Homo sapiens: one gene and its partner. The protein of the gene in region 1 purifies or fractionates together with the protein of each later gene. This does not show direct contact. Each region holds a gene or a part of one and is shown on either strand. Other genes may lie near its edges.

The links.
Region 2: the proteins of ZNRF2 (region 1) and ANKRD28 purify together in Homo sapiens (affinity purification with western blotting; 2 studies listed by BioGRID and IntAct, with this or other methods). This does not show direct contact.

The regions. Positions count from the first base shown.
Region 1 is NC_000007.14:30,278,667-30,289,858, forward strand, and holds the start of ZNRF2 (E3 ubiquitin-protein ligase ZNRF2), read left to right. Parts: upstream 1-5,930; 5' UTR 5,931-6,691; coding exon 6,692-7,160; intron 7,161-7,393; exon of another isoform or gene 7,394-7,419; intron 7,420-10,091; exon of another isoform or gene 10,092-10,166; intron 10,167-11,127; exon of another isoform or gene 11,128-11,192. UniProt on the Homo sapiens protein: E3 ubiquitin-protein ligase that plays a role in the establishment and maintenance of neuronal transmission and plasticity. Ubiquitinates the Na(+)/K(+) ATPase alpha-1 subunit/ATP1A1 and thereby influences its endocytosis and/or degradation.
Region 2 is NC_000003.12:15,667,197-15,678,504, reverse strand, and holds the end of ANKRD28 (serine/threonine-protein phosphatase 6 regulatory ankyrin repeat subunit A), read left to right. Parts: intron 1-150; coding exon 151-296; intron 297-877; coding exon of another isoform or gene 878-891; exon of another isoform or gene 892-942; coding exon 943-1,025; intron 1,026-1,448; coding exon 1,449-1,531; coding exon of another isoform or gene 1,532-1,535; intron 1,536-2,515; coding exon 2,516-2,607; intron 2,608-5,314; coding exon of another isoform or gene 5,315-5,424; exon of another isoform or gene 5,425-6,871; coding exon of another isoform or gene 6,872-6,895; exon of another isoform or gene 6,896-7,145; intron 7,146-7,948; coding exon 7,949-8,235; 3' UTR 8,236-10,263; coding exon of another isoform or gene 10,264-10,476; 3' UTR 10,477-11,269; downstream 11,270-11,308. UniProt on the Homo sapiens protein: Regulatory subunit of protein phosphatase 6 (PP6) that may be involved in the recognition of phosphoprotein substrates. Involved in the PP6-mediated dephosphorylation of NFKBIE opposing its degradation in response to TNF-alpha.

The DNA of each region.
Region 1 (11,192 bases):
CAGCCTGGAATGCCTATGGGTGCTGAAGCCAGAAGTCTCTCAAGACTCAGCCCAGCGTCCCTTCTCAGACTACATCTTTGTCCTTCACCAATCCCCATCCCTTCAGTCAGCTCCAGTATGCCTTTACCACATGGTACTCTGACCATCTCTTCATTTCTATCTAAGTCCCTTGATTAGAAGCTATAAGGTTTTTGAAGCTATATGGTGTTTAGTTGGTTTAACTTTACATCCCCAGATGCTCAGCTACTCTGTTTAAAGAATGAAAATATCTCCATTGGGGGTCCTAAGTTATTCCGATGTTTCCCTGCACCAGGTATGACCCAGCTCAGGGCTATGTTCCAAAACCTACCCAGTTTAGACTTGTATCCCTAGAGTTCAGCCAGAGCCCAGCTAACTTCTGGGAAACAGAGGGTGGGGTAAATTGACCAGGAGCTCTTGTTGCTCTATCTTCTCATGGTGGAAGAAAGGCAGTTCTGCAACTATGACCTTACCCTTTCCAACCTGGCCTAACTTGGGGGCGTAGATCATTCAATAGCAACTCAAAGGGAATTGGCCCCCTAATGCACAAACTTGCCCTGGCTGAACAGTGTAGAAGGCAGCCAACTTCACACACAAACTTAATGTGGTGACGACAGTCTGTTAAGTTGGTAGTAATTCCGGACATGCATTAATCACTGCTGCCTGTCCTTAGCGAGCCATAGCTGTTACTCAAAGTCTCTTGCATATAGATTGTCCTTGAGCTCTCTATAAGCAGGCACTCTGGAGAGTTAAAAATAAAGCAGAAATAGAGTTCCTGTACTTGGGAGGCTTAAACAATCTAGTCCTAAAATGTAGGGCTTGCCTTTACGGGGGCTTTTGACTAACTTTGAGGGAGGAAGTGGTAAGGGAAAATGTCTTATAATACGTTTTAATCATTCATGTACAACAGTCATTCACGTACAGTATTCATGATTTAAGCAAGTGACAGGAGGCAGTTTGGAGGGTGCATCTGCACTGGAGGAGGGACCACATGCATTATGTAGCAGAGGGCTATTTTTTCTCCAAGCTAGTCTTCACTTCCGTAGGCTGGGAAAATCCCCTTGGTACCGACCCCATGATACATTTTTCCACTAAATTTTATGTCTTTTCAACAGTATGTCCCCAGTAAAGATCTTGGATTCCTTTCAAAACACTATGTATGGAATCTGAGAGTTTCCTTTATAATGGAGTAAAAGCATCATGGGTTGTGGTTGGTTGGTATTAAGGGTTTTTAAATTAGGGCTCTTACAGATAAAAAAAAAAACAACGTTTGAAAGCCCAAGTGAATTAATTGAGAATAGAACACAATATAAATATTTAAGCTCTTAGTAATACTACATACCATTTTGGCAAGCAAAAATTATTTTTATTAGCAGGTGCTGACATTATATCTCAAGCTGTTTTTAGAAAGGAAAATGATTCTGGAATCTATGTTAAACATAGCCATAGGGCTCCAGTCATTGATTAATTAACATGAAATACTTTTGTGACACATTTAAGTCTATTTAGGACCCAAAGACTCTTTAGTCAAAGTGTTAACTACCCTGTGGAATCAAAAGAAAAAAAATGTTTAAGAGTTTAAATATTGGAGATTTCAAATAGGTAGTCTCTGATATCTTAATGATAATTTCCTTTCAAATTTCATCTATCTAGCTATCTATGAGTATATGTACACACACACACACACACACACACACACACACACACATCCATCCATCCCATGGTGGAAAGATATAGATGTGTCATGACATATCATACTATCATCATTATTATAGCAGTGATGTAAATACTTATTAGTAAACTACTACTAACGAATTATTACCAATACATCCTTATGCATCAATAATGTATTAAAATTTCACAAAATGGTAAAATCAATTTCATTGAGTATTAGTATATATTAAACTGTACAATGTCACAACATGCTAGAGATGATATGGAAATTATTACAATCTGCTAGGGATAATAACATTGAGATTAAAATTTGTTTCTCTATTAACACATTTGAAAGTACTCTCAAATAGAGAATGAATCTTTTGAGAATCATAGCCACTCTGTGAGACTGGTATTGCTATATGATCATCCATGTTTTACAGAAGGAACAGGTTTAGCCAGGTTAAGTGGCTTGCCCTAAATCCCACAGCCAGTGTCAGACAAAGCCAGGGCCTAACCCCAGCTTGAGCTCAACCACTTCACGGCATGTACTTTTAATCCTGTCATGATTGGCTCTTGTCTTTTGCTTCTCATTAAAAAACTAATACAAGTACAGGGGAGGGAGGATAAAAATTTGTTAAAGACATTACATAAACTTTTGATGTTTTCTGAACAATTACCCAACAATGTGACTCCTAAATACTACAAACTAAGATTTTGAATTTAAGATGTAAGTTTCTAATCACCACTAAGATCTTGGACAGTGTATGTAGGATGTATTAACACATATGTAGGATGTATTAAGATTCATTTTAATGTTTAGATGGTCCATTTGTTTCTTTAAAAAGCAAAATAATAGGAAAATAGGCCTATTTAAAAATAGGCAATTATACATATAGTCCTATTTTGGTAGAGATGAGGTAGTGTATGAACACTTACTTGAAAAAAAAAAAAAGCAAAGCCATAACCATCTCTTAAATCCTATAACAAGGGGAAAAGTGGGATGGCAAAACCTTAGCAAAATGTGTAGGGCTACTGCTGGCTGCAGGACAGCCCTGTAGAGAGGCTGTGGTCCCCGACCAAGAGGACTAATGGGTGTCACTATGCAAATTTGCTGTCCCACACATCAAAGGTCTGATCCAGCAGAGTTTTAAAAGAGAAACCAAGAGAGGAAAGAGGAATGCAAAGGAGAGTAAGGGAACACAAAGGGAAGAGGCTTGCCCCAACTAAACTTCAAACTAGACAACAACAAACTGATTGGTCAGGCATTTTTATTGAAAGCCCAGAAGTAGCTTACCTGTTCCAGTGTGAGTTTGTGGACAATAATTTTGTCAATGTGAAGTGCTTTAACAATACATTCAGACTAATTTTGCACCCCCAAAGCCTTTGGTCAAAATATCATTGAACTGCATCAGGAGGAATATAGTGTATTTTAAAACCTTCAAATTTGAAAAATTTTAAAGAGCTGGGGCTCTGGTCTCTTGATAAGTGGTGAAGGCATTAAAACAACAGTTCTGATTGTAGAGGAAAGCGTCATTTAGACCAGTGCTTCTCCAAACAAGAGTCCGAAGTCTGATGGCAGCAACATCACTGGGCAGCTTGTTAGGATGCAAATTCTCCAGGCCCAACCCTGAGCTATGGAATGAGAATCATTGAGGGTGGGGCCCAACAGCCTGTTTTAACAAGGTTTTCCTGTAATCCTTGTGTGTGCTAAAGTTTGCAAAGCACTGATTTAGACTACTGTTTATCAAAGTGCAGATTACATCCCCATAGGGGGGTGTAAAATCAATCCAATAAGCAGTGACCAGCATTTTACAAAAGTGAAGTCAAATAGAAAGCAGAGTGCATTTCAGGTAGCATGGGTATTATCTCAAAAACCCGTTGCAGTTCTACATGTGTGTATACCTGTGTGTACTCATTTGGATGAAGCAGCACTTTTAATTTTTGAAGAACTGGTAGGTATACTAAAGACGTGATGGCCAGGCATGGTGGCTCACGCCTGTAATCCCAGCATTTTGGGAAGCCGAGGCGGGTGGATCACAAGTTCTGGAGTTAGAGACCATCCTGGCCAACATGGTGAAACCCTGTCTCTACTAAAAGTACGAAAAAATGAGCTGGGCATGGTGGCACGTGCCTGTAACCCAGCTACTCTGGAGGCTGAGGCAGGAGAATTGCTTGAACCTGGGAGGCAGAGGTTGCAGTGAGCCCAGATCGCACCACTGCACTCCAGCCTGGTGACAGAGCGAGACTCTGTCTCAAATAAATAAATAAATAAATAAGCGACACATTTTCAACGAAGTCAGAACTGTTTGGTTGACAATAACACACATTGACAGCTTCATGCTGGTGACTGGAGAGAGATGAGAGGGGTGAGGAGAGAGGAAAGAAGGCCAAGGAAAGAACATAGAAGGCCAGCATTTTATCTCCAGAACCTTCGTGGGGAAAGAAACAAGGCTCACCAGAGAGGAGGTGGAAGGGGCACCCACCACAAGCGAAATGTCAAGGAGAATAAGAACATGATAAGTTAATGAGTGACATTCAAGAAAGAATCGTTTTAGTACAACTGGTGAGGATACATGTATTCACTCACTCATTCATTCATTCATTCACAAAACATTTATTGCACCATGGCAAGACCAGACACTGTGTTAAACACTGGAGGTACAGACATGAAGTTTATCATGGAGCCAATTGAGTAGTGACAAGCAAGATATCTAATAATAATAATAACATGATCAGAGCTATGAAGGAGGTATTGTACAGCACTGAGTGGGAACACTGAAGTCAGTCTGTGATGCTGGGATGGGGGAGGAGGTGGCAGGAAACATCTATAAGGAGAGGGCACTTAACCAAAATGATGACCATATCTTAACATGATACTGCATATAAAGCACTGGGTACCTTTGTTTTTCCATGTATATATGTGTGTTTGTGTACACAGATACACGTCTTTATATGTATACATATATTCTCCATTTGTTTAAAAACTTGATTCCCATACCCTAAGAGTGATGAAAATCATTACATAAATGACTTATTGCAAATAGTGAAAAGATGACAAAGTATTTCTGTAGTTTTATAAAACACCACTTGCTATTATTATTTTCAAGTAGAGACTAGACATTTTCATAATGGGAGTCTCAGAGCAGGCTGTTCCCTGGGTATCCAGACCCTGCTCTGCCGTGAAGAGACCACACCAACACTGAGGAAGGCACTGAGGAGAATTTTATTACATTTTAGAGAAGTTATAGGATTTTAAAGAGGCAGGTGCCCTAGGATTTAACACAAACAGTTCAGGTAAGAAACCTAAAGTCGGCCTGGTGCGGTACGTCACGCCTGTAATCCCAGCACTTTGGAAGGCCGAGGCAGGTGGATCACTTGAGGACAGGAGTTCAAGACTAGCCTGGCCAACATGGTGAAAGACCGTCTCTACTAAAAATACAAAAATTAGCCAGGCGTGGTGGCACGTGCCTGTAATCCCAGCTACTCTGGAGGATGAGGCAGGAGAATCGCTCGAACTCGGGAGGCGGAGGTTGCAGTGAGCCGAGATCACACCATTGCACTCCAGCCTGGGTGACTGAGCGAGACTCCGTCTCAAAAACAAAAACAAAAATAAACCTAAAGTCCAAAAAAGTAAAATAATTTGCTCACTACAGATAATTTAGTTTGGTGTTGGGCCTAGATTCTAGGTTTTGTGAGTCAGGTGCAGCGTTCCTGGCACCACAGTATTTGCCCTACCACAGAGGGTCAACCTGGATTATCCCGAGTTCTTCCAACTCTGCGCTTCCTCCCAGGTTGGTGTTTCATGAGTAAGTCTGAGATCAAGCTGGCTTTTGAGCTTCTGTTTTTTTTTTTAATCAGTGTGTAACACCAACACCCACCGAAACCAAACGGCTCTGGGCAGAGGACACAGCCATTCACGCCCCCTGCCAGGAAAAGCTGCAGCTGACACAGGCTCCTACAGCGTCGGCGGGCCACGTGCGGGAGGAGGGGCCGCCTTCTGGTTGGCGCCCGGTGTCCGTTCCTCCTATCGGCGTAGGCCCCGCGAGGAAGACAAGGGCGCGCCCTGGCTGGGAGGGCGTGGCCAGAGACCTGTCCATCACCGAGTCCACGAGTGGCAGCACCTACCACACCGCAGTACCTTGGCGAGGCGGAGCAGGGGCAGGCAGGTCGCGGAAGGGGGAGGCGGAGCAAGGCCGGCGGGAGCCAATCGGCCTGGCGGCACGAGGGGGCGGGGGCGGGGTCAACGCGCGCGACCCAAACACACGGGCCGGGCGCACCCTGCAGCCGCGCCGCTCCGCGGCCTTCCGGCGCGGGGCCGGGGAACCTCCTCCCCATCTGCGCACCCCCCGCCTTCGCGGCCCAGATCCTCCCGCCAGCCCGGCCCCTCCTTCGCAGGGGGAGCGAGGCGACGGTTGCCGGGAAGCGCGCGCCACCTCTCCCTCCCATTTTTCGTTCTCCCCTCGCGCGCCACCCGTTTTTCCTCTTTCTCCGTTAATAACAGCTGGGTGGCTGGGGGAGGAGGGAAGGTGGCCCCGGCGGAGTCTGGGCGGGCGCCTCCCACTCAGCCGCCAGCCGCCGTGGGAGCCGGAGGATGGCGGCGGTAGCAGCGGCCGCCCGAGAGGAGGCGGTGCCGAGATCGGGGGCGCCGAGCGCGGCAGCAGAGAGCGGTAGCGGCCCGTCGTGGCGCACCAGAACCGAAACCAGCGGCAGCCGCACGGCCACTTGAGCCGCCCCTTCCTGCTGGAGCCAGCGAGGGGTGCCTGCAGCCGGGACCCCTTCCTCTCCGCGTCTCCTCGTCTCCCGCGCCCGCGTCAGGCCGTCGGCCTCGCCCGCCGCCCCAAGAAGAGCGCGCCGGGCGCCGACTGCCCCTCTGGACGCCGGGCGGCGGCCCTGGACGTGCGGGGGCCTCTCTGGGCCGGCCGCGGCGCCTGGGCCCTGCCCTCTAGCTCCCGCGCTCGCTCCCGCCCTCCCGGCTCTCGGGGCGCAGCGCGCGGGCCCGGCCCGGGGCAGGGCGGACATGGGCGCCAAACAGAGCGGCCCGGCCGCCGCTAACGGCCGCACGCGCGCGTACTCGGGCTCGGATCTACCTTCCAGTAGCAGCGGAGGCGCCAATGGGACCGCGGGCGGCGGCGGGGGCGCTCGGGCCGCCGCCGCGGGGAGGTTCCCGGCTCAGGTGCCCAGCGCGCACCAGCCCAGCGCCTCCGGCGGCGCCGCGGCGGCCGCGGCGGCCCCGGCAGCCCCGGCGGCCCCGCGCAGCCGCTCCCTCGGCGGGGCCGTGGGGAGCGTGGCGTCGGGGGCCCGCGCGGCGCAGTCCCCCTTCAGCATCCCGAACAGCAGCAGCGGCCCGTACGGCTCGCAGGACTCGGTGCACAGCAGCCCTGAGGACGGCGGCGGCGGCCGGGACCGGCCGGTGGGCGGGAGCCCCGGCGGGCCGCGCCTGGTGATCGGCTCCTTACCAGCTCACCTCTCGCCGCACATGTTTGGAGGTACGGACCCCTCTCCGCGCACCCGCGCTCGGTCCTCCCGCGGCTGCACGTGGGCCGTGGCCGCCGGCTATTTTTACCCTTCTCCTTTTCTCCTTCTGCCGGGGCGCCGGGGGCTGCCTCCCGGACCAGCCCGCGTCGGTCTCCATCCTGGAAGAAACCCGGCGCTTAACACCGGCGGTGCCGCTACCGCATAGACGCGTGGTTTTGTTTTTAAACATCCTGAGCACCCTCACCTCAGCGGCTGCCCAGTAGAGAAAGTCTATTTTCCAGTGAGATGACTGGAGCAAATGTTGTTTTACAACAAACCGACGAAACAGCCCTTGTGGTTGTGGTTTTTAGTACCAGGAAGTCAGGAGGAGACCAGTTGCTAAATGTAGTTCTATCTGGGGACTCGAGTGGGGAACAGTTTTTAAAGGCCAAAAGTCAAAGCGTCTCAAATGAACACTGAGTTACCATGTTTGGACCGACTTTTAGTATAAAGCTGTAATCCTGAAATCTGTGTCAGTAGTCCCAGTTACTATGTCATTTTAATTGGATGAATGCGTTAATGAAAAGTTTGTTTTTAAACCTCACTAAACTGCTACTTAAGATCACAGTTAATGTGAGTCCTGCTTAATTTGGAAAGCATTTAAAAAATGGAAAAGTTTCTTAAGGAAGTAAAAATTTTGCACATCTGTCTTCAAGGTACAATAATTGGCTAGGTTCTTTTGAAGAGCAGTGTTGACTAGAGTTAAGGAAAAGTCAGTTGTGAAAAATGGACATTTTTAATAGCAAAGTGATGTACTTTACTACAGAAACAGGAGGAAGTGTGCGTTGTCCTGGGGAAAATGAATCCTACTTCTTCAGTTATGTTTTATGCTGATCTACTTTATTGCAAAACGCTAATAGTAAATGAATCAAGACCACCTCCCCTCTCCCCTTTATGAAAATAAATAGAAGTATAGAAGATAAGCATTCCCATTTCATCGCATTATGTATCTGGTATTAGAAAAATTAGCAACTGAGCACAGATGAGCAGCGAAAACACGATCCCCTACATTTTTGTGCCGCTTTTACTTATATATTTGTAAACGTAGGAACTTTGGAGACTTAGTAAAGTGGAATACGTAGTAATTTATCCGTTCTCATGTTCTGTACTATCAGCACACACGCCAGCATAAATTAAAAACAGGAATGTCATGTTTCATTTTTCCCATTTTTTTAGTAACGCTTTGCAAATTCAATTGGAACGACGCTTGACTTTTAATTAGCTACCTTGTTTTAAAGTAATTTTTGCTTCTTAAAAATATTCATCCCTCTTAAAATTGGGCTATTTTTAAAAGTCATTTGCTTTTGATTTTGAGTAAAAGAACTCTACTGGTGTCCTTAAAGTGATTTGATCACAACTAACCTAACAGTTGAAGTTGCTGTAGTCCGCACTGAAGAATATAAAAGGCAGTTTCTGAGAATTGGTGATTAGTGCGAGAATGAAGGGCAAACTGGTTTTTAATGTTTATCATTATCTTTTTAAAGTGAAAATTTGCATTTAGCAATTATTAGAAGATGAATATTTAAGTTTGCTAAAGAAGGGTGAATAGGAAAAGCCTTGTCAAGTTAATAGTTAATATTTATTTAATATGCTGATTTCTAAAAATTCATTTTCTAAGAGCTGATAATTCCCTTTGAGAAACATTATAGTTCTGTGGGTTTATTTTGTTAAGTAAATGCATTCTATTCAGAGCAAGAGACAGTTGAGCCCCATGCTATTCCTAGTAAGTAAAAATACCTAGTTGCTTAAAGTTGGAGATAAAGCATTTATCTTTTTTCTTATCTAAGTTCTAGATTTGTGCACTCATTATAGTTCTTTTAGTGCTGTTGGGGTTGGGTGACTGGGGCCTAGTAGTACAGTGACACTTTCTGAGGAACTTACAGCAGCCTTTCTCACCCGGCTTTCTGGAGACAATTGTGCCGTAGTGTGCAATGAATTTTAACTTTTAGCTCCAGTGCATTTAGAACGGTTTTAGTTATGTATCATTCTTGGAACAATTGAGAAAAGTCACTGAAATAATTTCCTGTGTTTGGTGATTCAGATGAGGAACCTCAGTTGAGAATTGCTGGAAAGACATCAGAGAAATTACCTGTTCTTATTATATGACAGGATCAGATGAAAGTGCCACATCCTGAAATCTCTGTTGAGGCAGGGAGATGGAATACATTTACGTAAAAACCCATCTTAGTGGCATTGCCTTACTGAGATTTTTACCTATATTTTAGTGGACGGGTTATTAGGAAAACAATAGAAGCATGTTTCTCATCATCTTGAGATTTAGGGAGCTAAATGAAGAATCTTATAATTAAAAAAGACTTGACTAGTTCACATTTACTTAACTTTTTAGTATCTATTATAACATTATTGTGTTTATTCAGTTACAAATTGTATAAATGGTTATATACAAATAACTGCATCTGAAAATTGATAAAAGGATTATTTCAGAATTAGTGGAAAGTTCGTATTGTTTTTTGTAAAACTGTTGTTTTAATTGTTGTTTATATTATTAACGTCTCCTAATAAGAAAATGTGGTACTAATAAGATTCAAAATTATTCTCTTGTGAGCTCTCATGTAATTTATAGAAAATGAAAAACAGTCCCCCCCTTTTATTTTTAACACTTAAGAGTCTAGCAAGTGGAATTGTTAGTAGTTCTCTCATAATGAATTGCCACATTGAACGAGGAAGTTTTCTGTGTTGGTTTTATGTTTTGATGTCATTTGGACATCTGTTTTGGCTATATACACTCTTATTCTCTCTAGAGAACTGGAAGAAAAATGCCTAATCCAGATATTTCAGTGTGTAGAAATTTCCTAGAATTGAGTTGCCAGACATCAGAATGTGATTATATTTATATAGGAGTTTTTAGGTGAAGTAAATCTTGTCCTTATTATTCTTTTCAGACTGAGGAGTGTTAAAGTGAACAGACGCTTTCTTGACTACTGCTAGTGTCGTCCATCACCTTTGTTTTAAAACAGGTCTTAAGGGTATTTCCTAATATTTAAAAATGTTGATGGTATTTTAGGGTTTGTTTGGCTTTAATTTACGTCTACGTTTTTTTTTCCACTGTCAAGTAGCTGTTGTTCATAAGAGCATAATATGAGTGGTCAAATAGCCTTTAATGATGCAGCAAGGATGGGGTAGATGAATTGGGCTATAGAAATATACCAATACATGGAGATTATTTCCAGAGAAATCGTGTGGACTTCTATAATGTATCCTTGAGTCCAGAAGTGAAAATGTAAAATGACTTAATCTAAGACAACCAGTGGTGCTGGGTTGCTTTTGGCCTCCTGATTTTCTTGAGCTTTTTTGGGTGTGGCTTGCTCATGAGTATTTCAGTAGTCTGATTGTAACTCAGGTGCCTTGCTACTTGTGAAACATGTTTTCTTATATTGAAGGAGTGTGGGTTATCTCTTAAAACTGAATATGTTGAATAAGACCTGTATTTCTAGGAAGATTTCTCTTAATTTTTAAGGCAGATGTGAAGTTTTATGGTGTTAGGTTATCTTCATCAATTAACCATTATGGAATCGGTCTCAGTTATCACTTCTTACCAATATCAAGTGCCAAAATGTTTGAATTTGGGATATTGTAATTAATCTATTTCCTATTCCTGAATGTTATTTTGTGCCATTGAAGGCTTTTATGGGGAGTGGCCGAAGAGGAATGTTTGCCTCTTTCTAAGAAAAATGAGCCTTCTAACCACAACCCCTGCCACTCCTGAAGTAATAAGAATTTTGGTGGTTATTGTTCCTCACTTGTAATTTCATACCTTCGTGTTACATGTTTTGCTGTGTGTAAGTGTGGCCTGTGTCATGGAAGTTTCTGCTTTGGGAATTTTTTGGAATTATTCTTGACTGCAAGGTGGGGAGGATTGGTGAGTTGCACAGGGCATCACCTGATCTGAGAGCAGCGTGACCTAAGAACCTGGTATTTTGATGCTTTGCTGGCTGGTGCAGTGCCTGAGGGAGTAAGAGCCCTGTTGTTGTAAGATAGTGTCT
Region 2 (11,308 bases), on another chromosome or scaffold:
TCCATTGAGCCTATTTGTTTGTGTACAGGCAGTGCTTTTGTAGCCTAATATGTAAACCCTTAAAAACAGCATGTCACAAATTAAAGAATATTTTTCCAGCATATATAACATTCAAATTTAGTCATATATTTCAATTTTTCTTTATCACAGAACTCCTCTCCATGCAGCCGCCTTCACAGACCATGTAGAGTGTTTACAGCTGCTGCTCAGCCATAATGCTCAAGTCAATTCTGTGGACTCTACAGGGAAAACACCTCTTATGATGGCTGCAGAAAATGGACAAACAAATACAGTTGGTAAAGAAACTTCTTTAAAATTGTATTTTCCTAAGTATGTGTATCACTTATGTATAACTTAGATCCCAAGACTTCTGACTTCAACTAGTTATCTTACCACTCCTAAGACTTAAAACCTTTTACCTGTTTGCAATCCACATTTTCATTTAGGGATACAATGTTTTAGTTTGCCCTGACTATTGAGGAGTCTACTTTACCATGGCCTTATAACATAGTGGTTAAGAACACTGGCTGTGGAGTTGGATTGCCTGAATGTGAGTCCTAGATCTTTCAGCTAAATGACCTTATGCCTCAGTTTTCTCATTTATAAAATGAGAAAAATAACAGTATCTACTTGGTGTGTTGTTGTGAGGGTTAAATAAATTACTTTAAATCCAGAGCATATAAAACAGTATTTAAAATTTAGTGCACAGTCACAAAATAAATGTTAATTGCCATTGTTAGAGTGTGTGACTTATACAACAATATAATTGTCTCATACAATTATATGAAGATATATATGTTATATATTACAATATTTTTCTTGTACTTAAGTTTTTGTGAGAGGGACTTTTTTGCTTTGTATCTTCATTTCTCTACAGTGAGTTATTGGTAATCTAAGAAACATGTTCATAAACATAAGAATTGATGCACTTTTTCCTCCCAGAGATGCTGGTTAGCAGTGCTAGTGCAGAACTGACTTTACAAGATAACAGTAAAAATACTGCCCTCCATTTGGCTTGTAGCAAGGTATGTATACATCTTAAGAATATGTTTCCATTGTTAATATTAACAGTGACCTTAAAAGTTTTTTGACTTCACTAAAATGAACAACTCAGGACCAAACCTCTCTAATGATCACTGGTATTAGATTTCTTGAACAAAATTGACTTATAAGGCACCATGGCGTATCAAAGTCTCCAGTAAGCCAAATAAGTTTTGGAACACAAGTCTAAGCATAATTATCCTCTTTCCTTAATCTTAATTTTGTCCTCTTCTCCTACCCTCACTCCCAAGATGTGTTTGGGCAAATATTAAGATATTAGCCAGGAAAATTCATGGTATATGTATGGTGTTGTACATAATATATGGACTAGGATTGCAGATTGTTGGGTGTATAAATGTATCTTTAATGGTGCTCAAGTTTTTATAACTTATCTGCCACAATTATAGGGTCATGAAACTAGTGCCTTGTTAATACTGGAAAAGATAACAGATAGAAACCTCATCAATGCAACCAACGCAGCCTTGCAAACGTGAGTACTGTCAGTATCTAGTATAAACTTTGTGACCTATAATTATAAAAATGATAAATGGATTTTTTTAAACATGTGACTATTGGAATAGGTTTCATTAGTCATAGAAGCAATTTTAATAGTTTTACAACTGTCAAAACTCATTTCTAAAATGATCACAACTAAAAGCCATATTATTTAAAATGCTTTTGAACTGAAATTTTATTATAACATTGACAATAATGTATTTTTTTCCTTAATCCACCTACCTAATTTTCTGAAGGAAAGTAGTACTATTTTGTGTATTCTGTGGAAATCAACTGTAATAATATGTTACTTGAAACTAACAATAAATGAGGTAAGAAGCTTTATGTGTGTCTGTAAGCCAATAAGGTTTCTTAAAGAATCAAAATTTTTAATAATGTGAGCAGCCAACCTCCAGATAGACTGACAGAGATCTTACATCAGTGTCTCTCATTGTCCCTTGCTATTCCATTTTGAGGTTTAGTAAAGATAAAAATCTTAGAATATTGTTGCCCGTTCTGGGATTAGTCAGATCCCTTGAAGGTCCAAAAATTAGTCATGATGCTTGTAAGCTGTTTTCAAAGCCTATTAGAATTTATGCTACTGCAGTTTACAGTTTTTAATGTATAGTCTGTATCTTTACCAGCCTCATTCCTTAACAACGGAGGAATGCAATTTCAATGGTAAAATGTTTTTAAACATTGAAAAGAAAAGTAACAAAAGGATTGGGTGAAGGTAGGGACCTGTCGATGGGACCTATGGCTGAGCTTGATGCCGAGCTACACGTTGACAAGGTGTGACAGTGCACTGCACAGAGGTTCTGCTCTCCCTGCCCCCATCTTTGTTATTAGGACTAGGTTTCTCGAGTTTGTACCTCTTGGTCTTCACAAGTTGACAAAAATGCTCTTTGACAGCCAGGTGTGTATGTGTATGTGCATGCACATGCACATATGTGTACATGTATCATGTTTTTTCCCCTAGACCTCTGCATGTTGCTGCCCGAAATGGGCTAACAATGGTGGTTCAGGAACTTTTGGGAAAAGGAGCAAGTGTGCTTGCAGTAGATGAAAATGGTAAGTTGGTTCTATATTCTCTTCCCTTAACCTAGAGCTTTTATCTTTTGATCCATATTTGAAGAGAAATAAACTTGGATATTTTTTATTGGTCAAAGAGGAGAGCTAAAGTTAATATTGAAGAGTAGTTTGTGGCAAAGGAATAAGGGCAAAAGAAATAGGAAAAGTTATCTAACAGATGTACTTCCGAATTCCTATATCATCTGTTACAGCAAAGTTAGTATTTACTGTTTATACTTGCCACTTTCTGTTGTTTTAGTAGCCAAAGATTTTGTTCTTTCAGCAAATATGTATCAAGATCCTAGTTAAGTACTAATATTCTTATTTAAAGCCAGTGTTTCTACTCATGCACTAGATCCTGTCCCCTTTTGCCTACTTCATAATGTCAGTTTGACAGTTCTCTTTTGTGTCCTGGAGTAACATTTTTCGCTCTCTTCCTGTATTATTCCTCTCAGTATATAAACATTAGTTCCCTCATCCTTAAAAAATAATTTATAAATCTCACTGCTCCTGCCAGCTACTGCCATATTTCTCTGTCCCCTTTTGCAGCAAAACTACTCTCTTGCTGTCCGCAGTTATTCCTCTCATTCTTCCATTCTTTTGTTGTTGTTGTTGTTGTTTGTTTTTGAGACGGAGTCTAGCTCTGTTGCCCAGGCTGGAGTGCAGTGCCATGATCTCGGCTTACTGCAACCTCCGCCTCCTGGGTTCAAGCGATTCTCATGCCTCAGCCTGCCCAGGTAGCTGGGATTACTGACACCTGCCACGACGCCTGGCTAAATTTTGTATTTTTAGTAGAGACGGAGTTTCACCATATTGGCCAGGCTGGTCTCAAACCCCTGACCTCAGGTGATCTGCCTGCCTTGGCCTCCCAAATTGCTGGGATTACAGGTGTGAGCCACAGCGTCCAGCCTCATTCTTCCATTCTCTCTTAATTTCCGTATAGTCAGGCCTTCTCCCCCTCACCCCTACACATAGCAAAACTGTTCCCATCAAAACCACCAATGACTTCTACTGTGTTAACTACTACTTAGCTCTCATTTTACTTGATAGATCAGCTTTTGGCACAACTGATCGTTTCCTTTGATAAATTTTTTTACTCTGCTTTTTGAACCCCACTCTTCCTTGGTTTTCCTTCTACATTACTAGTTATTCCTTCTTAATTTCTTTTACAAAATTTCTCCCTCTTCTTCTAGGACTCAATTCTTCGTTCTTTTTGCTTTCTCTATCTACATTGACTCCCTAGTGCTCTCATCAGTTCCTTTGGTTTTAAATACTACCTATAATGCTGAGGATTCCCAGATTTATATCTCCAGCCCAGACTTCTCACAGTCTCTATATATCCACGTGCCTAATTGACACATCCATGTGGATGTCTGATAAACAGCTTAAACCTAGAATGTGCAGAACTGAACTGTTGATCCTTTCCCACTCCCCTTGCCAGACCTACTCTCCCCACAGCATCATGCTCTCTCCATTGAAGACAATTCTCATTCTTAACAGTGGCTCAGGGCAAAACCCCTAGAGTCATCCTTGATTCCTCTCACTCATACTCAATGTATAGTCCATCAGCATATACTATTGACTCCACCTCTAAAGTAGATCTAAAGTATGCCCACTTTTTTCTTTACTGCTACCAGACTGACCTGGATCCTTTTAAAGTATATGAGAACATGTTACTCTTGAATTTCGGTTCTTCTTCTTTTTTTTTTTTTTTTTTTTTTTTGAAGAGGCAGGGTCTCACTCTGTTGCCCAGACTAGAGTACAGTGGTGAGATCATAGCTGATTGTAACCTTGAACTCCTGGGCTCAAGAGAACCTCTCACCTCAGCCTCCCAAGTAGCTAGCACTATAAGTATGCATCACCAGGCCTAGCTAATTTATTTTTTGTGCTGACAGACTCTCACTATATTGTCCAGGCCGGTCTTGAACTCCTGGCCTCAAGCAATCCCCCCACCTCAGCCTCCCAGAGTGCTCCACCTGGCCCCACTCATAGTTCTTAAAATGACCTTACTAGGCCCTACATGATGTGTCCTCCACCTTGTTACCTTTCTGATATTATTTCCTACTCTTCTCCTTTCTCTACTTCATTCTGCCATGCCAGCCCCTCCATAGCAGGGTTATACATGCATTGTGATCTTCATTCTGGCTGTTTACTCTGCCTGAACACTCTGTCCCCAAACATCCCATGACTAAATTCGTCACCTGTTTCAAATCTTAGCTCCAGTTTCATCTTCTCAATGAAGCATATTCTAACTATTCTTTACTACAACTTGCTAGATACCCCTACCATAGCATTCTCAGTCCTTGTTAACCTGCTCCACTCTTTCCTCTTTTTTTACATAAAGCTTTTAACATATTGTATATAATGTACTTTTTTGTTATGTTGATTTTGTGTCTTCTCCACTAAAGTGAATGTAAGCTCCACAAGAACAGTGAAATCTTTGTCAGTTGCATTCACTGATATATTCTTAGTGTTCTAAATAGTGCCTGAGCAAGTGGAGGCTCAGTGAATATTTGCTGCATGAGTGATTATGCCAAGCACTGTACTAACTTCTGATGATATAGTGTAAAATAAGACATAGTCTACTCCCTTGAATGGAGATAAGAGTGCAAACAGCCTATTAACGATGCACTTAAAATAGTTTAATTGGAATAAGCATAGAATGCTATGAGAGTACTTAAGAGGGTCTTCAAATCCTTTCTTGCAGGATCAGAGAAGGCATCCCAAAAAATGCAACTGCTAAGCCAAAATCCAAAGGATAAGGAGAAAGTGGGGGAGGAACTTTCTAAGCAAAGAGAGTGGCATGTTAAGAGATAAAACTGGCCGGGCATGGTGGCCCATGCCTATGGTCCTAGCACTTTGGGAGGCACAAGGCGAGTGGATCACCTGAGGTCAGGAGTTCGAGACCAGCCCCGCCAACATGGCAAAACCCCGTCTCTACTAAAAATACAAAAATTAGCCAGGTGTGGTGGCATGTGCCTGTAATCCTAGCTACTTGGGAGGCTGAGGCAAGAGAATCGCTTGAACCCAGGAGGCAGAAGTTGCAGTGAGCCGAGATCATGCCAGTGCACTCTAGCCTGGGTGACAGAGCCAGACTTCGTCTCAAAAAATAACCCCCATGCAGAGGAGAGGAGCCTGTTTTTAGTCATATTCTGACTAGAAAACACACCTGAAACAAGCTTCTTTCCCCACTCCCGCTCTCATCCAAGGCATCCTGGCCTATGTAATGGGTTGTTCTGCCTGCCAGCAGCAGGAACAGCAGCAGGCACCTTTAGAAGAACCCTTGAAAGAAGTGTGGGCAGTGAAGCACTCCCCCAGCTACTTTGAACAAATAAAATTTAATTAAAAATACGGACAGCCTTCAGCCACTGCTGCCAAACTTGGAAGGACATCAGTTGTTCTCTTTGACCCTTGACAAAATGGGAACTTTACAAAGGGGGAAAAATTACTTTTTGTGGCTGGGCACAGTGGCTTACTCCTATAATCCCAGCACTTTGGGAGGCAGAGGCGGGAAGATCACTTAAAGCCAGCAGTTTGAGACCAGCCTGGGGAACAAAGCGAGACCCTGTATCTACAAAAAAGTTTAAAAATTAGCCAGGCATGGCATGTGCCTATAGTCAGAGCTAGTCAGGGGGCTGAGGTGGGAGGATCACTTGAGCCCAGAGGTTGAGGGTGCAGTGAGCATGATCATTATACTGCACTCCAGCCTGGGTGACAGAACAAGACCCTGTCTCAAAAAAAAAAAAAAAAATCCTTTTTTTATCAAGGCCAATATAGCATAGATGAAAATATGTGGGAGAACTGGAAGCAACCAGATGCCCAGTAGTTGAAATGTATAACTAAACCATAGTATAATCACACAATGAAATACTGTATAACAATGAAAATGAACCAACTACAGTTACATACAACATTGATAAATTTCATATAATGCTACACAAAAATGCCAGATATGAAATAATACATACTACATGATTCCATTTATATTAAGTTTTTTAAAAACTCTAAACTGTAGGCTGGGTAAGGTGGTTCACATCTGTAATCCCAGCATTTGGGAGGCCGAGGCAGGCAGATCACTTGAGGCCAGGAGTTTGAGACCAGCCTGGCCAACATAGCGAAATCCCATCTCTACTAAAAATATAAAAAATTAGCTGGTCATGGTGGCACACACGTGTAATCCCAGCTACTCAGGAGGCTGAGGCAGGTGAATCACTTGAACCCAGGAGGCAAAGGTTGCAGTGAGCCAAGTTTGCACCACTGAACTTCAGCTTGGGTGACCGAGCAGACTCTGTCTCAAAAAAAAAAAAACAAAAAAAAAACTATAGTGTTTATGACTCCAAGTTGAAAGCAAGGAAATTACTACCCCATAAGTCAGGATAGTAGTTACCATTGTGGAAGAAGAAAGGTGTAACGACTGGGTAGAGGATATATGGAGGCTTCTGGTATGCTGGTAATGTTCTCTTTCTTAATCTGTATGGTGGTTATACAAATGTATGTTATGTGATAAAACTATTAAAGTTCCATATGGTATAATTGAAGCTTGGCATCACACTATTATCACTTCTCTCCCGCTCCGTCCTCAAGACTGAGTCTTGTACCAACTGAGGTACCAAATGTTTCCTCCTTGGTTTGCTGTGTTGACACTTTGTGGTAACTTACGACTAAGGTCAGTTGTCTTCCGCTTAAAAAAAGGGAATATTTACAAAGGAAATATTTGTTTTGATTTAGTAGTTTTTAAAGTTCATCTGCTTAGTTTGTCTACTGTTTTTCTTCAAGAGACTGTGACCCCAAGAGAAAAGTTAAATTGACAACTAAGTGTCATTCATTCAACACATATCTTTTGAGCACCTGCCCTGTGGCTGATTCATGAAGCTGTACACATTTAAGATTTCTTAGCATCAAAAAGTTTCCTTACATAACTACAAATTAAATTTTTTTATTTTTTCTTACCTTGACACTGATATAACTGCAAATTAACAGTAAATCTCTGCCTACCATCCTGAAAGAATATTCACGATATGTGGTGTTTTTCTTATTCTAGCCCAGTTTTTTCTGTGAATTCAGATGGATACGGATAAGTTGTGAGACCTTGGGGAATCATTCTTCTCTGGGCCTGCTTCCTCTTCTGTTGTCTAGTCTAACATCCCCTTCCACCCTAGGTTTCTATGGCTATTCTTTTTCTACTTATTAGAAACTTGCGAATCATGCTGGTTACAGCAATTTATTATAAGCTAAGTAATGTAAAATATGTCTAAAGTTGAAGTACTTTAGGCTTATTTCCTTGTCTTTGGTGAAATACATCTCAGGATGCTTAATTTTTAAATTTTATCTTTAATTCTAGGCTATACCCCAGCTTTGGCCTGTGCTCCCAATAAGGATGTGGCTGATTGCCTGGCTCTCATTTTGGCCACCATGATGCCTGTCTCATCAAGTAGTCCTTTATCATCCTTAACATTCAATGCCATTAACCGTTATACCAACACCTCAAAAACAGTCAGCTTTGAAGCTTTGCCCATCATGAGGAATGAACCTAGCTCCTATTGCAGTTTCAATAACATTGGAGGGGAACAGGAGTACTTATACACTGACGTGGATGAGCTCAACGACTCCGATTCTGAGACCTACTGAGAGGCTGAGGAGGAGGGAGTTCTCACAGTAAAGCTTCAAACTGTGCTTTTTCAGGAAAAAGGCACTTTGATATTCACGTAGAAATTCAACCTAAGAGGAAAGATCCCACAGTGAGCCAATGTTAAGAGATCTGATGGCATTAGGAGGAAGAGTTTTAAAGGCAAGTTTTACAAAAGGAACTTCTAGAATCTTGAAATAGACCTGACTGAGGAAAACACATTGATGTCAGAATTCTTTGTGGAATTGTTTAATTTGGTTTTGCAGTGCCAGGAACAATTGGGGACACTGTGCACTCTAACCTGCTTACACAAGCAACACTATTGTAACAGAAGAAATAAAGACACTAGATTTAAATTTTATCAATAAAATTACAACTAAATTTAAAGGCAATAAAAGTTTGGTACAGTAGGCATTATGTGCACAGCAAATTGCAAAAGGACCAAATAACTGAAAGGTTTTTTTAATAAAATGCCATTTTGTGGAAACTGGAGTAGATTAAATGAAACATTACCTAAACCAAACTGCAATATTTCTGGAAATGAAGCTGAGATTTGGTTTTAAATGTTGAGTTTTTTTGGGTTTTGTTTTTTTTTTAAGAAAACATCTGAAAGCCTTCCAATGCTGTATTAAACCATGAGAGAAAGCAGATGTATTTTTACATTTTTTTCTTTTACAGAACTATTTCAAATTTCCAATTTTTATACTATTAGAATTAAAAACCAGCTGACTGGGTGCAATACGGGTGAAAATACTTGTGACATAGACATTGAGATGGATTGGGGTCAGGCTGTTGCCCTGTTTTGAATGGTTTGGGTTTAAAATAGTACTATTTTTGTTTGAAAATGTAAAGAATTTCCTAGAAAAAAATTCATGAAATCAAAAAGTAGACTATTTCACCCTATTGCAGCTAAGTGGTCCTGGGGCATGGAGTCTTCAACCTCTCTATGAATGGCACACCTTAGTCACTTATGTTACTTTTGTGTCCCCACCATGGGTTGGGGGATTTTTTGTTTATTCTGATCTATGAGTTTTGAAAAAGTGAATAATCAAAAGGAAAATAATTCCTTGTTGTTCATAAATTAAGCATCACTAAAGTCTCTTGAAAGGCATTTCTGTATTGGGCAAGATTTAAAATACTAAAGCCTTAGGTCCTATTCATATTTAAAGTAGCATGTTTGTAACCTGTTACTATTTGGAGAGAGAAGCAGTTGCCTGCCAAATTGAAGACTACCTTTCAAATAGCAAAAGAGAGAGAGAAGGCTGATATTTCGGCTTTTAAATAAAGATTTGTGTGGTTCTGCTTTTACTGTAACTGTCACTTTCCCAGTGAAAATGATTTCATATACATTGAGGGTCTTACAGGTATGGGTAAAGTTCTATAAATTGCAACAAAATGATACCCAATTTCATTTTATCCTTTTTGTATTGTGAAACTGGAAACTTTATGACATTGTAAATTATCAGCTGGTTTTTCTGAATATAAAGTGTGAAAACACAGAACAGTATTTTGATCTATTTGATAATTTTGTGGGTTTTTTGAAGAATTAATGAGCATGTACATAGAAATAGTGACTGCTTGAATACTGTATTTACTTGCACTCTTTCAGTACATCAAGATTCCTGTATATTTTAGAGTATAATAAAACACAGATGTGAGTTGTATTTAATGAATAATGTATTTGTATCTGTGCATATTATCTACAAATCTATAAAGTTTCTAGGGCATTGACTACTAGATTTTAAGCATTTTTTCTAAAATATTTACAGAAATTATAAATCTAATCCCCCATCTTTTCTTTATAATATAAAGAAGTCATAATGAACCCTTCCTAATTATTAGTAGTAGGAAGGTGAATATGCATTTTAATGACAGTGGACTACATTTTCTATTGTACCTTTTGAAAAAAAAAAAAATCAAGCAGATTCTAAAAGTATACATATGTGTGCTTTCTCTTTCCTTTTAGGAATTCTCTTCTGAATTCCCTGAGGGAATTTTCTAGAATCTCAGAATTGAAAGAGACCTGAGGTTCATCCAGTCTCTAACCTCTTAACAAATGCAGGAGTCCCTTCTACAAGGGTGATCTTTCCACCTTGAACACTTCCAAGTGACTCTACCTCACCAAGCAGTCCATTCAGTTGTTGAGCAGCTCTAACTGTTAGAAAGGTCTTCCTTAGATGGAGTTGAAGCCTCCCTCCCGGTAACTTCTGTCTTTGGGCCTGGGTCTGTCCTCCAAGAGAACCCTGAGAATGTTGGAAGGATGAATCTCGCACATTCTGCCATGTCTTCTCTTTTACAGGCTGTTTGACTTCTCTGCTGAAGTGATTTCCAGAAGGACTCATTTGACACACTATTAGATTTACCACATCTAATGAAATCCAAGGTGTAGCTATAAAGTGACAAGCTGTTTTTAATTTATCACATACACCAGAACTTCTATCCTGCATCACTTATATGTAAATGATGCTGTTACCAAAAACATTAAGGTAGTTCTTGCGAATGCCACCCCACTAAGAAAACTATTTCATTACTTTTGTAATCCATCTGTGAGAGTCTGCCCCCCAGCTTAACCACTTCCTTTGGTCTGCACCCAATGAAGGGAAACCCCAAAGTACTGTCTCAAATGGTATTTGAACTACGCCAGTATTGTTGGAATAAGTACATTAATTACTTGAATGAATGAACACAGCACCGTAGAAATTTCCTTTATGGTTACACCTTGTATGTCTAAAGCATTCAGGCCCTGTTCTGTAGTGTTTCTTATCCTCACACAGAGTAGAAAAGCCTGTTTGCTTTATTTAACTTATACATAAAAGATGACATCTGAAATATCTGATGTGTATTATAATACCAGCTTCTGCTCTAGAACTACTTTGGGTGAAATGGTGGTAATAGCAAATGACCTCCTTTAACAAGACACTCATCTCAAACAATGCCATTTAGTTCAGGAGATCTCTAAGTGTAGCTGTAAATTTTGGGGTTAATTTGGCTTATATTGGACCTTTTAAAAGAAATAAAGTTTTTTAATGCAATAAATCAAGTGTCTGTCTCTTTTACATGCAAACTTCTTTTCCC